Linked DNA regions of Homo sapiens: all the other regions are linked to region 1. The links come from fine-mapping of genetic effects on gene expression. A gene starts in region 1. Each other region holds a variant in brackets. All regions are shown on one strand. Distances are between the middles of the regions.

Evidence for each region. PIP is the estimated chance that this variant, and not a neighbour inherited with it, causes the effect.
Region 2: its variant is fine-mapped to the expression of PTPRE in whole blood (INTERVAL, PIP above 0.99).
Region 3: its variant is fine-mapped to the expression of PTPRE in whole blood (TOPMed, PIP above 0.99).

The regions. Positions count from the first base shown.
Region 1 is chr10:127,904,814-127,910,033 of GRCh38, reverse strand. PTPRE (protein tyrosine phosphatase receptor type E) reads right to left here and starts at 2,931. Exons shown (of 21, transcript NM_006504.6): 1 at 2,725-2,931. RefSeq lists a silencer at 2,968-3,087.
Region 2 is chr10:128,060,291-128,065,510 of GRCh38, reverse strand. PTPRE (protein tyrosine phosphatase receptor type E) reads right to left here. Exons shown (of 21, transcript NM_006504.6): 8 at 4,496-4,572; 9 at 3,796-3,832; 10 at 2,331-2,428. AS-PTPRE (lncRNA antisense to PTPRE protein-coding gene) reads left to right here and starts at 3,086. Exons shown (of 3, transcript NR_136150.1): 1 at 3,086-3,384; 2 at 4,667-4,824. RefSeq lists enhancers at 1,405-2,003, 2,343-2,552, 2,963-3,012, 2,344-3,543. The variant C/T (reference allele first, on the strand shown) is at 2,278.
Region 3 is chr10:128,068,642-128,073,861 of GRCh38, reverse strand. PTPRE (protein tyrosine phosphatase receptor type E) reads right to left here. Exons shown (of 21, transcript NM_006504.6): 13 at 4,035-4,170; 14 at 3,412-3,561; 15 at 2,961-3,054; 16 at 1,648-1,724; 17 at 391-525. Among named protein-coding and RNA genes, the nearest start is that of AS-PTPRE, 8.8 kb to the right of the region's middle. RefSeq lists a silencer at 4,326-4,523. The variant T/C (reference allele first, on the strand shown) is at 2,606.

The sequences.
Region 1 (5,220 bases):
AATACGGGGCAGCTTCGATCCTGTTCCCTCCCTGCTCCCAAGCCTGCCTCCCTGGGAGGTCACTTGGGGTGTCTCTGGTCCAAGCCAGCAGTCATTTTAGCAGGTGAGTCCAGCATCTCCAGAAGGGCTGGCCACATGAGCCCTGGATGGACCATGCCCATCCACATCGGCAAAAATGTGTGGCTGCCTATCAACCATACAACATCCACGCAACAGACACACACTTGCTCCATCAGCACATGCGCTTCGGGAAGGTCTCACTTCCAAGTTGTTTATCCATGGACAGTAGTCCTCAAGGCTCCACTGGTAGGCACATGGCTGGGCACTGGAGATACAGTATTGCCCTCTCTTCACAGAAACTATAGTCTGGCATACATTTCAGAAGCAACATGGAGGCTGGTGGAATTGGATGGATAAAGACAACACTGGGAAAGTACTGGAAGGGGAGGGGAGATCACAAGTTTGATTTTGACGCATTGAGTCAAGGGGCATTTGATATCCCAGGGAGAAATGTCAAGTGGGCAGCTGCGGAGGAGAACTACAGAGGAGTGGCCGGGCCTAGAAACACACCTCTGGCCTTCAGGGAGGGAATATTGATCAGCGGTGCACCTTAGACTAGGCTAATGGTGGTGCAGATGGAGCACAGTGGACCCACTGAGGCACAGCTGGGAGAAGCATACTTTCACCAGTTGAAACTGATGCATCTACCATCACCCCCACTGTGAATGCATCTTCTCTTGGGGTTTGGGGGCAAGATTTGCACACACAGCCACCTCTCTTCTCAGGGGCAAGGATGTACACACACAGCCGCATCTACTCTCAGGGGCAATGGTTTGCACACACGCATCCCTGGAGAAGAGGGGGCTCCCATCAGGGCACAGTGCTTCAGGACCTCCTCCAGGCTTCCGTGGAGGTGGCGGTGCTGACACAGGGAGCGCATCTCTCTCTGCCAGCTGTCCCCCACAGAAATGAGAGGTGGCCTCTGTGTGACTTTCCGCATTGTCCTCACTTTGTGTCCACACAGGGCCTCCAAGAAGCATCACACGTAAAGACAATAACACCCTCATCGACTTCCCTCAACTGGTTTGACTGGAACTGATGAGGGAGTGTGTGACTAAGTCCCAAGCCATCTGGACACATCCAGTGACCTGACCTTTTACAGAGACAAATCTAGCTCCTAGCTCTTGTCCACATGGGAACGGTCTGTTGGGGCAGGGAGGGGGCGGTGGTGACTCACAGGCATCACCAACATCAATGAACAAAAATCTTGGCCCCCAAGGTCAGATTCAGGGGCAGAGCCTTGTCTGGGAAGGGCTGGGTGGTACGTCAGGCCTCTCTCACTGACAGCGCAGCCCCCACCTCTTGGGCCTGCTCCACCTCGCCTCTGACCTTTTGCTCCCCAAATGCCAAGAGCCTGTGCTTGGAAAGTACAGACCCTAACCCTGTTCACACCACAGAGCTCTGCCCATACCATGCTGGCTGAGTGACCGTGGTGGTCAGACGCTTGCCCCAGCCACTGGCCCCCACCATTTCATGCCCTCCTCTGGCCATTATCCCAGTTTTGGAAACGACCCTCCACACCCCCCCTCCCCACCCACATACACACAGTTTAAATGGACAAGAGTCGTTAGTGTGCAGAGGCAGAACTTCATCCATCTTTGGGACACAAAGACCTCCAGACGCCCTGGGTCAAGGGGTACCTGGGGCCAAATGCAGAGCTGACTGGACATGGACACAGTAATTTCTGTATCACGTGATCACTCTTTGCTGGTGTTCATTCAACTCACCTATACGCTCATTCACTCTAAAATACAAGCAGAGAGCTGTATTCTTTCTTTGAGTTTCCTGGATTGAAACTCTGATGGAATGGTCACGACTCAAGACAAACCAATATCATAATTCTGCAAGTATAATTGCCTAATCTTTCTGGAAAGGTTTGCATGCCTGGAAGGAATTTAGGTCAGGTCCAGCGCGGTCTCCATCCGGCTTGGCTCTGCCTCCCCATCCTGTGGGTTGCCCGGCCTTCCCCAGATGGTCCCGGGAGCTCTCAGAATTGGCACCGCGCTCGCATCTGTGCTCAGGAGCCCTGTGAGGTCGTCGACCCTGCAAATCGCGGCAGTCCAGCCTGGACCACCTGCCAGGGTCTCCCTGCCGCATCTCCGACCCCCGGCGGCTGCTGCATCCCGCTCCACCTGCCTCCCTGGGAAGGCGCGGGCGCCCGCCCGGCTGCGGGGCAGCATCCTGGCAGAGCGCCGGCCCCTCCCAGAGTTGGCACAACTCGAGCCACTTTCTTCAAAGGCTCCAGCCTCCAGCCTCGAGTGGGCGCAGCCCCCCACGCGCGGCCTGCACCCCCTCTCTGTGTCGCCCGCTTTCACGTACGCCGCCCTGCCGCCGGCCCCCGCGCACTGTAGCCACCCGCAGACACGCGCGCCCTCCTCCTGTTTACCGAGAGGGAGCGTGAGCACTGCCACTGTGGTCGCCAAGTTGGGCTGGGGACTCCGGGTGAGGGGACGCGCCACAGGCCGGGGTCGGGGGTCGTACGGGCCCCAGCCGCTGGTACTGGGCGCGCCGCGGGGGCGGCGGGGCCGGGGTCCGGACTCTGAGCCCCGGAGCGGCCCCTCCCTCCCGCGGCAGCGGCCGAGGCAGCGCCCCGGCCTGCTTGGGCCTCCCGGGGTGCACAGTTCCCCACAGGGGCGCAGGGTCCCTGTCCGCACGCGCGCTCACCTCGGGGGGGCCGGTCTGGTCGCGCAGATCGCGCTGCAGCGGAGGCTCCGCATCTCCCGGGCGCCTGCCCGCCGCCCTCCGGGGCGCCCGGCTGTCTTCGCCGGGCGCGAAGAAGGGTCGCGGGGACGCGCAGAGGCCGTGGGTTCCTGAAGCCGCTCGCGCCGGCTCCTGCCGCCCGCTGTCCGCAGCCTAGCAGGAAATTTGTCCGGCCGGCCGCGTCCCGCCGCCGCCTCGGCTCCAGCTCCGGCTGTGGCTCCGCGGCGGGGGCGGGGGCCTGGGCGCTGCGAGGAGCGGGGGCGACGCCTGGTGCCCGGCGCGGGGAGCGCATCCAGGGCGCCCGCCCCACCTGCGAGGCGGGTATGGCCCTGAGGCCCTGCGGCCCTGCCCTGGGAGCACCCAGACACTGTGGGCATCCGTTTACTCAAGGCTGGTGCCCCTTCCGGGGAGGCCTGGTCCAGCCACTCCGCCGGGACCCAGGTGCGTAGACAGAGGGTCAGGGTATGGCAGGCACTCACACCTGGTGGAGAGCAAAGGCAAGGCCCTGCCTCTCCCTGCCCTATCCCTGTGCACCAGGAAGTGGCCTGACTAGGGACTCGCCCTGGTCTTGCAGCAGGTGTGGGACACGCAGGGCACCCCGTGCGCTTCTGGTGCGAGGAAGCTGGGAGAGCTGTGAGGTCGCTGGGCCTGGTGGCCTCCTCTGGAAAGAGGAGGGGATAAGGCGCCTGTCTGGGGGATGTAGAAGAGGGCTCGCTTGTCCCGAAGGCAGTATCTGTCAAAGTTAAAAACGCACAAAGAGAAAGAAGAGCGACAGAGCCAGGCACTGGGCCTGCTGTCTAGCCGACTTCTTCCAGGGAATTTCACTCAAGCTATTTAGGGAGCTTTCAGAGAAAAGGCAGTTCCCTGGAAGGAGCAGAAAAGACACTGGTGGCATGTTGGTTCTGAACCTTTGTGCCGTGCCCTCTGGATGGGGCCACGGCCCAGCCCTCATGAGGGAAGCTGCATTCTGTGGTAGGGACCCAGCTCATTAGGCTTATGAATGAATGAATGGATGGGGAGAAAGTGGCACTTACGGTGTGTTACCCCACGTTGCACCGATTGCCAGCCGACGACTCTTAGCATACTTAAGGCCTGTTTAGACAGAGCTACGGACCCCAAAGGCTGCAGAGCAATGGGTGCCTCCTGGCAGAGGCCACCCCCACGTGATTTGCCCAGAGTGGGACTTCCCCTCCACAGGGGCCGGAGAGCTGCGAAACCAGTGGAGAACTTGAGCTCCACCTCCCTGCCCTGCCCTGCCCATTTCTGTCCCTGGGGGCCTTGTCTAGCCCCAAAGCTTTAAACACCATCCGTATGGGAATGACTCTAAGCAGCACCACTCTGGGGCCCTCTCCTCCAAGCTCAGCTCCTCCTGGCTGTCTCCTGCTGTCTCAGACCTGCCTCTTGCTCTTACTTAGTTTCTCTGCAGTCGTCCCTGTCCCTGCCTCCGTGTCCCACCTCAAGTCCACCTCCCAGAGGGCCCAAGTCCACTTCCCACTGGCTTCTCCATGCATCTTGCCCTTTCATCTCACTGCCTGCGCCCCTCCAAAACCTGCAGTGGCTCCCCAGCTTCTGACCCACTCTCCCAGATGATCCATTCTTCACACTTGGTCCCAGGCACCTCACAAAGTGTAAACCGGGTCCTGCTAGCCCCCTGCTTAAAAGCCTCCAGGAATATTAAAACCCAAACTCCCACGAGGCTCTGCCTGACTTCCCTGGCTGCTCTGAGCCTCTCACCCCTGCCCGCTGGGCTCCAATCACGGCTCCTTTCTCTCAGTGCCAGAGCCAAGCTCCTTCCTGCCTGGGACTCCTCCAACCAGTGCACCTGGTTCCTTCTTACTGGTGGCTTCTGGAAGATCGCCCTGCATCCATCTCTTCTGCCACTCTCTTCCACATCCTCCATCACAGTTTGGAATTATTTGTGGGTTTATTGGCTCCTTTTGTGTCTGTCGTGCCCTCTTCCCCTACCCCCAGGGCTGTAAGCTCCAGCAGCCTAGGCTCTGTTGATCTCCATGGCTTCTCAGACTCAAGCTCCTAAAGCAACGTCAGTAGCCAGGAGGTGCTCAGTGAAGGCGTCTGGGCTGTCAGAGCAGAGGAGGATGGGCCCCAGCCAGCAGCAGCAGACAGCCTGGTCACCTCGGAGCCCAGCAGGGCGGGTGGCTCCCTCCTGAGTGCACCTCCAAGGAACAGCCCAGGTTGAGGTGGGGCCAGGTAGCACATGACGTCACCAGGCTTTGGATTTTTCTGCTGTTGTGGTCTACAGAGTCAGGCTTATGTACATGAAGGCCATAATTACAAAGCTCTGCTAAGCACAGTTTTGCTTGTTAACGCTGCAGGGCTGAGGAGGCAGAGACTGTGAGCTAAGAAGACAGAAACAACTTGCCTTTGTCAGACATCTGCTATTGGAAAGTGAACAGCCTTGGTAACATGATGGGGAGGCAGATGGCTCTTCTTTCCTCATAA
Region 2 (5,220 bases), 160 kb before region 1:
TTGCTACAGACAGGCCCATTTCTTTACCTTCCCGACCTCTGAAGCAAGAATGACCCAAAATACACGTTCCAGGAGCCCTTTCATTTTGCAGCACCGCCCGCAGCACCTGCCCGGTGGTGTCCTCCATCACTTCGCGAGTGAATGAGGACCCACCTCAAGGGGGAAAAGATCTACTTCATCTGCCAGAGAAACATGTCTGGAATGGAACAAGCCTGCCAGTAGTCAGAGAGTATATCCAGGGAATGGCCCCTGAGCAGCACAGCTCGTGGTCAAGCCTCCAGGATTAACAGTCTTATGAAACAAACAGCATCTGGTATTTAGTAGAGAGCAGCATCATTGTGTTATGACGGCTACCGACAACTTCCCCCTCCTTACACCTGGCTCCGGGCGGGGCTGCGGGGCTGTGGGTCACAGGCCATCTCTGATGCAGCCCAGGGGAATTGCAAATGCCTACATGTCCCGGTTTGGGTGAGTCTTGGCCCTATGGGGAGCCCTGGGGTCCCTCCTGAGCTTCTCACCTTGAAGGCTCTCCAGTAGGAACTGAGAACATGTGTCAGCCTCTCAAGGGCTCAGTGTTGGTGGCTGGTTTTATACCCCCTCCCTCTGCCTCCCTCCCACCCGATCATGAGATGCCAGGGCAGCTGTGTTTTGCAATGCAGAGCCCAGGATGTGGAAGCCAAGGAAACCACAACAGAAGTGTGAGCAATTAAGAAAAAGGGAACTCTATTGAGAAATGATTTCATCTGAATTGGTGAGAATGAGGACGCGGCAGCAGCCCAGCACTGAGTCACAGGAGTGGAAAAATCCAGTAGGAGGTTGTGGGGGAAGATGGAGAGAAAATGCCAGTGACACTTTCAGCAGAATGACTGAAAGAGGGAAGTGAGGGCGTCCTTGAGCCCCACTGCTTCTGTGCTGGTCTCATGCTTGGAGCACCAACCCCAGGAAGACTGGTCCCTATGGGCCATGGGTCACGGGGGACCCTGAGGCTCCTGATGAAGGGTCAGCCTCCTTTTCCCTCGCGTGGGTGTCCTCCTCCATGGCCGCTACAGCGCAGGCAGAGTGAAGAGTCCTGGGCTGGGAATCCCCTACTTCCCTCTGTCACTCTTCCCTCTTCCCCATGACAAAGCATGACAAGGGCAAGATTTGCAAGGGCAAAGGGGTGGCCCTCCACAGTCCTGTTTCAGCTCCCCCCAGAGCAGAATGAAAGCCTCCATCCTATTCCTGACCAGAAACGGTGGCTGGAGGCTGCTTCCTGTGTTTTGGGTGGCAATTAGTAAGCTGGCACTGCGGGGACCAGAGCACCTCCCAGCCTGCCCTTCCTGTGGGCTCCTGCCACCCATCTTCTGCCCCAGCTGAGCTCCCCAAGGCCTGGTACTCCCATCTAAAAATGGCAGCCCTTCCCCACAGTCCTCGCTACAATGCCTGGGAACTGCTGGGGCCAGGCCAGCAGATGACTGAGGAGCTCAGGACACAGCAGGCCCTGAGCAGGGCCGGGCAGGACACACGGCTCCCACTGAACCGGGCCTTCATGCCAGAACACGCCAGAAGCACAGCCTCCTAACTTCGCCCCACCTGTGGTAAGTGTCCCTCAGGCTCCCAGTTCTTCTTTCATTCTGGAGAGTGAGCTCACTGCCTATGGCATGGCTCCCTGCCTGTCACTCAACCCCACCCCCGCACCCAGGCTCCCCACAGCCACCACTTCTCAGCCCTGAATTTGAGCCCCTACTCCTTGCACCTGGGACAGAGCTGGCCCAGCACAGCAGATGCTAATGAGTACTTGTTACATTAGGAAACGAATCAGTTCAACTTTTCTTCTTTGTCAATGATTCAAATTCTTATAACGTACATGCATCCTTTTTTGAATTAGAAACAGCTAATTAAATATATTCGGATGACAAATCAACATTTCTTCAATATACCAACGTTTTCCAAAAGCATTTCTCTAGTCTGGATAATAAGCGCGAAATCATGTTCATTTCTAGCCTGAGCTCTGCCGCATGACACGCTCAACATCCTAAAACTCTAAGATTCATGTCTCTCATCAGGCAGGCAGAGCCATGGGGCCAGCCGGGGGCCACTCTTACTTGGGAAAAAAAGGAAACTCTTGTGTCATTGTGTTATCACAGATTAGATAACAGTGAGATGCTGGGGACACAGGGGATTTGTTTCGTGAAGAAAATGCTGTAAGCCACTGCATGTGTTTGGGTTTTTTTCTGCAGTGATAGTGGGAGGAAGGGAGGGAAGTAGGAAAAGGAAGTGGTAAGAACATCCCCAGCC[C/T]GGCAGCAGCAGCTGAAAGGAAGTGATACCGGGGCCAGATGCCTGGAACTCACCTCTTTCCTTTCTTTCAAGTTTGTTAACATGACGATGGTCGCAGACTTTTGCTCCCAGACCATTCTCCAGAAGTCGTTAACCGTTTCCTGTTTGGGACCTGTGTGTAGAGGACAATTTCGAAGTCAAAAGGCATGAAGGGAAGTCCCTTTGGGGTCCCAGCCCCGGCACCCTGGCCGTTGGCCCCTGGACAGCTGTTCACTCCCTTCTCAGGCTTGTTGGGGACACACACGTCATGCCCTGAAGCGTTCCGGAACCGGTAGGGGCTGCCTGTCCTGCCACTCACCCACTCCAGCTAGGAACTCCTCAGTGGGCAAGATAATTGGGCCCAGGTTGAGTTATGACGTTCACAGGTAAGAAGCAGGGTTCAGATGAGGGCTGGGTCTACAGCCAAGTGTGGGAGAGCTGGTGAAAGCCTTGCGAGAGGCAGAGACTGGCCAGCCTCACCCTGCATTCCCAATCCCCTCCTCTTTGTCAAAATCTTACTCTCAGCATGGTGCTGTCCAATACGATATGAGCTAAAGTCCCTCGGGAGGGGGATGTGAACAACAGACAAAGTGTCACTAGGAGAAAGTCCTCTGCCCCTATCCACTTCCTGTCTGAGCTGCGGCTATTTTGCAGTCCCGAGCTAAGTGCTACGTGCTGAGGGGGATGGGCGGGGAGATAAGGAAGCCCCTGGCCCTGCTGCTGTCCTGCCGTGGGCTAGCTCCCTGTGGGTGTCTGCTGGCAAGAGAGAAACACATGCTTTCATCTGCTTCAGCCAGGATCGTCAGGTTTCCTGAGGTTTCCAGCTGGGCACATTCCTGATGGCCTCTGCGTGTGCACATGTGTGTCCTTTTTTCTTAGAGATTCTGCATTTGTAACAACTTCCCAGGTGATTTTGATGGACGCTGACTTTCAGAGCTCATTGCCCTAAAGACTCCTGGCCTAAGAGTGAGGAAGTCTGAGGAATCTGGTTTCAGCTCCACTGATATCTAACCGCACGTACACCAGGTCCTGCAGATGACAACCTCTGGTGGAACGGAGTGATGCTGGATTCAGTACTCAACACACAAGGTAGCCCTGTGCAAGGTGAAGGGCACGTTTTCACAGCTGAAGTATATTCTTAGTTATGGCCTTGATCTGAAAAGCTATTCACCCCACTAACCCCTCGCCCAAACTTGGGGAGCCATGTAGGGCTCAGCCAGCTGAGAGAAATTCAAGGTTATCTGACGCAAGTATTAACAAGCTGGAATGGCAGCCGGGGCCATTGCGTGCCCTGTGTTCACACCATATAGGTGTGGGAATAAGTGTGTGTTTCTCTGACTACACATATCCGTTGTGTGAATGGATATCTAACGTGTCTGTTAGGTGTAAACACACACACACAAATCCAGTATAAGTCCTTGGTCTTGTTGGCATACAGAGAAGGAAATAAGAGCTATTCACGTTACCAAAAATACGTTGAGAAATTAATAAAAAGCTTACCTTGAGCTGCTATGAATTTATTCTTCTCTTTGTAACCCTAGAAAAAATAACATCAGATTTATATTTTTTCAGAATTATCTTTGCTGAAAGGATTTGTTGGTGTTGCTGTTAGGAAAGCAGTACATATTCACCATGGAAAATTTGCAAAACACAGGAAAAGGTTAAGAAGGAAAGAAAACTCACCAGCAATTCCAGAAATAACAAATCCTACTTCATACGTCCCCTCTCTAGTCTGTTTTTCTGCCAAACCTTTCCCAGACTCACCCACAAGCAGACATGCAGACATTTCTGTCCTCTAATTGGGTGAACATGTACAATTTATTTTATGTTGTATTTTTAATGGGAATTTTATAATTGATATTAAATGATCTTTTAAAGATTAATACAAATCAAGTTCTAATAGTCCACTGCACATGGTTTTACCACAATCTGTTTAACTACCCATGCTCCCTGTTCTATTTGGTCAGGAATATACATAATGCTGTAGTGAACATCCTCTGTGATCATCTCTGTCTCTTGAATTCAAATTCCCAGATGCTGATGCCAGTGTGTAAAGCACGGGCAGTTCCGTACCCTTTGTGCTTGTGGCCAAACTGCCCAGAAAGGTTGTGACAATTTACACTCCGGGCACCAGACAAGAAAGTGCTTACTGCTCATGCCCCAGCTGGGCCAGGGGAACAAGAAACCTCTGCCCACTTACATCTATGTAGGAAGCATTGATGTAGTCTGAACAGGGAATTCCATCCAGTTGGCTCAGAATCACCCTAGAATGGTCATCTGGAAAAAAAACCCAAACAAAGCCAAGATATTAGGACCAGGAATCACAGTGCTGTCTCTTCCAGAAATCACAGTGCTGTCTCTTCATCTGCAGTGTCAGCTCCTGGGAAGGGCAAAAGCAGCTTCACAGCGACACCAGGGATGGCAGAGATGTTCTTCCTCAGCGTTCCCATGGAGAACACTAGTGTCCTGAGAGAGAATGCACCTGCTTTGGTGAACACTGACTGTCTCAGCTGTGGCATGACGACAAGGGTAGGATTTCAGCATCCAGGATGGGGGCTGCTGGGTCATTACATAGCAAGAATAGCAGAATGTGCCAGGCCCCTGGCAGTGCAAGGGCTGTATTTTATGAACCCTGCACTGGGCCCAGCCCCAGTGTTGCCAAGTGTGGGTGCACTTAAAAGAGCCCCAGGACAGGAGAACTGGGTCCACTCTCCCAGGCTTCCCAGGGAAATGAGCACCAGCCCCATGAGGACAAGTGGATGTGGGGGTCTAGGATTGGGGACTCTGACCCTCAGTCCCACCACCGGAGTCTGCCCCAGAGCTGGAAGGCGAGCACAGTGAGGAGCGTCTGGTAGATCCAGCCTGTTGCACAAGCAGTTTTCCGGGGTAGAAGGCTGACCGTGGAGTGCTCTGTGTGTGGGGTGT
Region 3 (5,220 bases), 160 kb before region 1:
TCTTGGGGGAGAACCCAGATAGATGTACATTGTTGGTAAACCTTGGGTTTACTGTTGTCTTCATGTCTTGAAAAAAGTCAATAAATGTCTTTTTCTTCAACAGGTTATGATCTTGGCCAATACCAAATGGCAGAATTTCAGGGCAGGTTAAATAACATGTAGGCTAAGGATAAAGGGCAGCGGGTAGCTATGGTTAAACCTCACTCCCAAAAAGGGAAAGGGTGAAATGAAACCTTTTTCATTTCCAATCTCTCTCCTTCCCTAGTGGTCCTGGCTTGGTCTCACCCATGTGTTTGCAGTGATGGCAGGTGGGACATTTGTAATGAACGGGGACAGTGCCTCAGGTGCACAGGCTGCCCTGGAGGGACCGGGCTGGGCGGCACTCCTCACCTGCTCTCTCTCCTGCACCTCCGTCAGCATCACGATAGTGTGGGATTTCCATTCCCAGATCATCCTCCAGAAGTCCTCAACCGTGTGTGCCAGTGGCCCCTGGGTGGCGATGAAATAGTCCTTCTGTCGGTAGCCCTTCAAATGGAGGCGCAGAGGTTAGAGTCTGACTTCCTTCCATCCTGGCTCCATTACCTGCTCCCTAAGTTTAGGACAGCCTAAGGCCTAATGAGGAAAACTCTCTCATCCTCCATGGTCTGCACCAGACCCCAGTTGGCACGAGCACTCAGGCACACACCTGACAAGCAGGTCAAGAAGCTCGCTTATCTGAAACCATAACGGCCACCGTCAGCCCCTGAGGTCATCAACAAATGGGTATTATGAACTGGTAGTTGCCTGTGGCCACCTGAACAGCACCTGGTGGCTTAGATTCTAACATGTTTCTGTGTGTTTCAGCTAGATCAGCATGGAGCCCACCGGATTCTGGTACAATTTTCTCATCTGCAAATGGCAATATGAACACACACTTGGCTGCCATTCCCCCTTTTGCCCTTCTTCTGCGAACTCCACTGTGCATGAAGACAGCCTCTGTGTGCCCTGAACACATAATTGTATTGTCCACGTGGGTACACATTGCAGAAATCACACAAGAGAAAGAGCACAGAGGCAGTGGATATATAATTGGTGTGTAACAGATATGTAAAAGAAAAATAACTATATATTAAAAGCAGAATGAAAAAAGAGCCAATTACTTAGCAGCGAGTCTATGTCCTTCTATTTCCAAAGTCCACTTTTTTTTTTTTTTTTTTTTTTTTTTGAGAGGGGGTCTCGCTCTCACTCTGTTGCCCAGGTTGGAGTACAGTGGTGTAATCTCAGCTCACTGCAACCTCAGCCTCCCGGATTCAAGCAATTCTCCTGCCTCAGCTTCCCAAGTAGCTGGGATTACAGGCACCTGCCATCACGCCCAGCTAATTTTTGTATTTTTAGTAGAGACGGGTTTTGCCATATTGGCCAGGCTAGTTTCAAACTCCTGACCCCAAGTGATCTGCCCGCCTTAGCTTCCCAAAGTGTTGGGATTACAGGTGTGAGCCATCGTGCCTTGCCACTTTTTTTTTTAAGCAAGTAATTCTGCTAACAAAAATGGCTGAGTTTCTGGAAACATGTCAATTCTTTCTCATTGTGAAAACAAGCTAATCAAGTCTGTGGTCACATGTGAAGGAAACACATCTGCATAAACACAACCCAGGCCAGCATACGTACGTCTATGAAGGATGCGTTGATGTAGTCTGTGTATTCTTGACCCCTTTTCATGGAAAGGATCACTCGGTTGAAGTCATCTGCAAAGCATTATCTTCCTTTAGTTATTACAAAAAGGGTCCCACCTTGCTAACTTTAATCCATTGCTACAAGCTTGCAAAATATAGATCCTATTAATAAAATCACTACGTAAAGCCAACTCTTTGGAAAGTTTACGTTATGAGAGACGATAATTAAAGTGGCTCAGGGGTATTTTTCTTTTTGAAGGAAAACTCTGAAAACCACCCAATTATCATTTTCATTTTTCAGGAATCGATATAATACATACCAAAATACAAGCACTAAAAATATTGCGCTGAAGGAGTAAATGGAATGTGGCCAGGCAAGCAATCTAGAGTGGCCAGCAGGACACCGGGGCCCCAGAAAACCAAGGGCCAGAGTCTGAAGATGGCAGCACCCCGGGGAGCTCTACTCGCCTGCAGTGCTCGGGGAGACCCTGCTGCAGCAGGCCTGCTCCCAGCTGTTTCCAGATGGTGTTTGTTGAGCTGTGACTCTGTCGAGGACAAGTCTATAACGAGGCACACCCTCCTCCCAAGCGGGGCATCTCCCACCTCCCTCCCTAGTTCCTCGGATCCCTGTGGAGTCTGCTTTGGGGCCGGGTTTCTCAAGTTTCTCTTTTTCCCACTTGGTGAGCCTCCCGATTCCCACTCCCCTGCCCACTGCATGTGGCCCTGTCTTCTTGCCAGCTTTGCCTCCACTCCTCCCACACCTGCCAGGTCCTCCTTCCCTCTCCCATGACCTGGGTGGCAGACCAGTGTCCTGACTCTACCCTAGGCCCATTTCTTGTCCTCCTCAAGGCCACAGCCTTTTCCTAGGTGGTCTCAGCTGAGTTCACCTGCATGGCCTCGGCTGGGTGGCTCAGGCCCCTCTGTGTAAGGGGGAGGCGGGCCTCTGCCCAGGC[T/C]TGGGGAGACAAGGAATGAGACAAGGAATCCCAAGTCGTGCCTGCCGCAAATCTCCAGCTTCTGTGAAGCCCTCCCCTGAAATCAGCCTCGGCTGCCCTCCCGCATCTGCAAGCTCATATCCGAAGCAGCTTGCCTGAGACCCATGCAGGACTGTCTGGGTCAGCTGGTGCTTCACAGGTGTCTTTTCTACCTGACATTTGGTACAGCACACAGGAGCCCTTAGCCTGAGGCCAGAGGACACCCTGCTTTTGACCCTGGTGCACAGGGGTAAGCGGTCAATGGCTTCTCCAGGATGAAAGCCTCCGGCACCAGCCCCGCCCCAGCCCTGCCCAAGCCACGCCACGGGTGCCTTACACGGGATGATCTGGATGACCCTGGCCTTCTTCATGTTTGCCGGCAAGTTGCCCGTCCTCATGTTCTCCTTCATGATCCGGACATTTGTCAATTTCTGCAGCAGAGAAGGATATAATGACACAGTTAAACCTCTGACACTCCTGAGCACATTGCTCAGCCGAGGACTAGTGCTGCTGGCAAGGACGCCTGCTCAAAGGAAACCACTCTCCAACCCAGGAAGCCTCCTTAGCATTGGGAAATACAAATGTGTGCCTAGTAGGGCTGCTATGAGGCTCTGAAAGCCACCTGATCCTTCTTCCCTTGTAAATCATGGCTCAGGTATTGCCCCTGCTTTTTCTGAGGTCAGTTAAGGGGCAAGTGATTGAAAGAGGCTTCCTTTAAATGGTCACCTGTTTTCCTCGTGCCCTTGGCTGCTTACACCAGGATGGAGAGGAGGGTCAGCTGTACTCACCCTGAACTCCTCCTCCAGCCCGATCTTGTCGAAGTGGGTGGTGGTGCCGTGCATGGTCTGCAGGTGCTTCTCCAGGGAGGACACGTCCAGCTCTGTGTCCCCGTAGAGGTAGTACTCGAGTAAGGCTTGGTAGATGAACGTGTACTGCATCTGCAGAGAGGCCAGGGGTGCCCACACCCTCAACTCTGCCCTGCAGTCTTGGCCCACGTGGAGCTTGGCAGACCAAAGAGGGCGGCTTTCTTCTTTTTCTCTTTTTGCCAACACAAGGAGGTGTGAGGCAAGAGTCAGAGTACCGGCCACGGATAACGACCATTTATGCCCTTGAGTAAGGAGAACGGTAGCAGCAGAGCCTCACATTGGTGAGCACGCCACGCACTGTGTACATGCACCGTTTGGGGGAGTAGGATTGCCCCATCTCACATGAGGATACGAGGGAAAGATGAGGACGAGGGAGTCCCTGAGGTCCCACGCGTGGGCAGGGAAGGCTATGGGGAGCGAAGCCAGGCCAGGCCCAGGCTGGTTGCCACGTGCCCATCAGAGCCAGGGCCCTGCACACCTGTGTGGCGAAGGCATCGGGTTTGCTTTGGGAAGCTAGATCAGGGCAAGAGGAAGGCATGACTCACATCCGTTTGAACCATCTGAGGGCGCTGATTACGGATTCGAGACACAAATTCAAACACATCCACCTTCTGCTCCGCGTGCATCATGGCCATCATGGCATCGATCACAATGAAGGTGCCCGTCCGGCCCACGCCCGCGCTTTGGGGAAAGAGAAAGATGCTGCGTCGTGAGTCACACTCCTCCCGAAGTAAATGAAAGGCCCCGAAGGGGCCTGCGCACCCAGGTCACTGGATGCAACTTTTTGTTTTTTTGGTTAATTAGGAGCAAAGCTACAGTGCAGCCACCAGAGGGAGCTGTGGTCTCAGTAAAGTGATCTCAGGCCGGTCCTCTGATAGCCACCGACACTCTACTAAGAGGCACATTAACAGCTGGTGCAGTAAGCCTCGGATTAGGCTGTGTGGAGAATTTTTCTCACTTACCAAACAGTGTCTTCTTCTTATATGTGTGATTGGCATCCTAGATCTGTCCCCCTGGGAGCAGAGGGACCTCAGATCAACTATGCAACAGCTCTGGTATCCAGCCTCCCTCTCTGTCAAACTGGGCAAACCAAGTCATCTGACTCGGGGCATTAAGTGAGGTGGCATCTGTCAGATTACTGTTATCTGACCCTGCAAATTCTTCCCAGTATGAGCTACACTGGAGGGTGGGTGGGGTGGGGTCCAGCCTCTGCTTGGCCCCAGCAAGCGAGTGTTGCTCAGACTTGGGGAAAGCCCGTTCTTCGGGGGTTCCTGGACGGCTTCTCGTGAACACCTGCATGACAGGTGCAGAGCGCCTGCATCACTGCGTGCAGGTGGCTTTTGTCCCTGGCAGTGCTGTGATACTCAGAATGAACCTGTCTGTAACAGATGGAAACTTAGTATCTAATCAAAGTGATACCCTGGTGAGGCCAATCACTGCCAGGAACAAGTGGGGCTCTCTGTGGACAGGGGGTTGTGGGGTGGCCTTGGCTGTACATTTGAGTAATTCTTCATGTTGTGCAAAGCCCACCCAGATGCCAGTCACAGGCTCCGCCGAGGCTGTCCTTCCCATCACAGGTGAGGAAACCGAGGCTGAAGTGGCAGCTGGCGAGGGGCAGCCTGGTCCTCGGACCCTGGTCTCCAGGACAGCGTGTTCTGGAAGACTCTGCTGTGGGGGCCCATCTGAGCATGGTGTGCTCTTCCATAACGACTTGTGTGTTGTTGGGGGGCT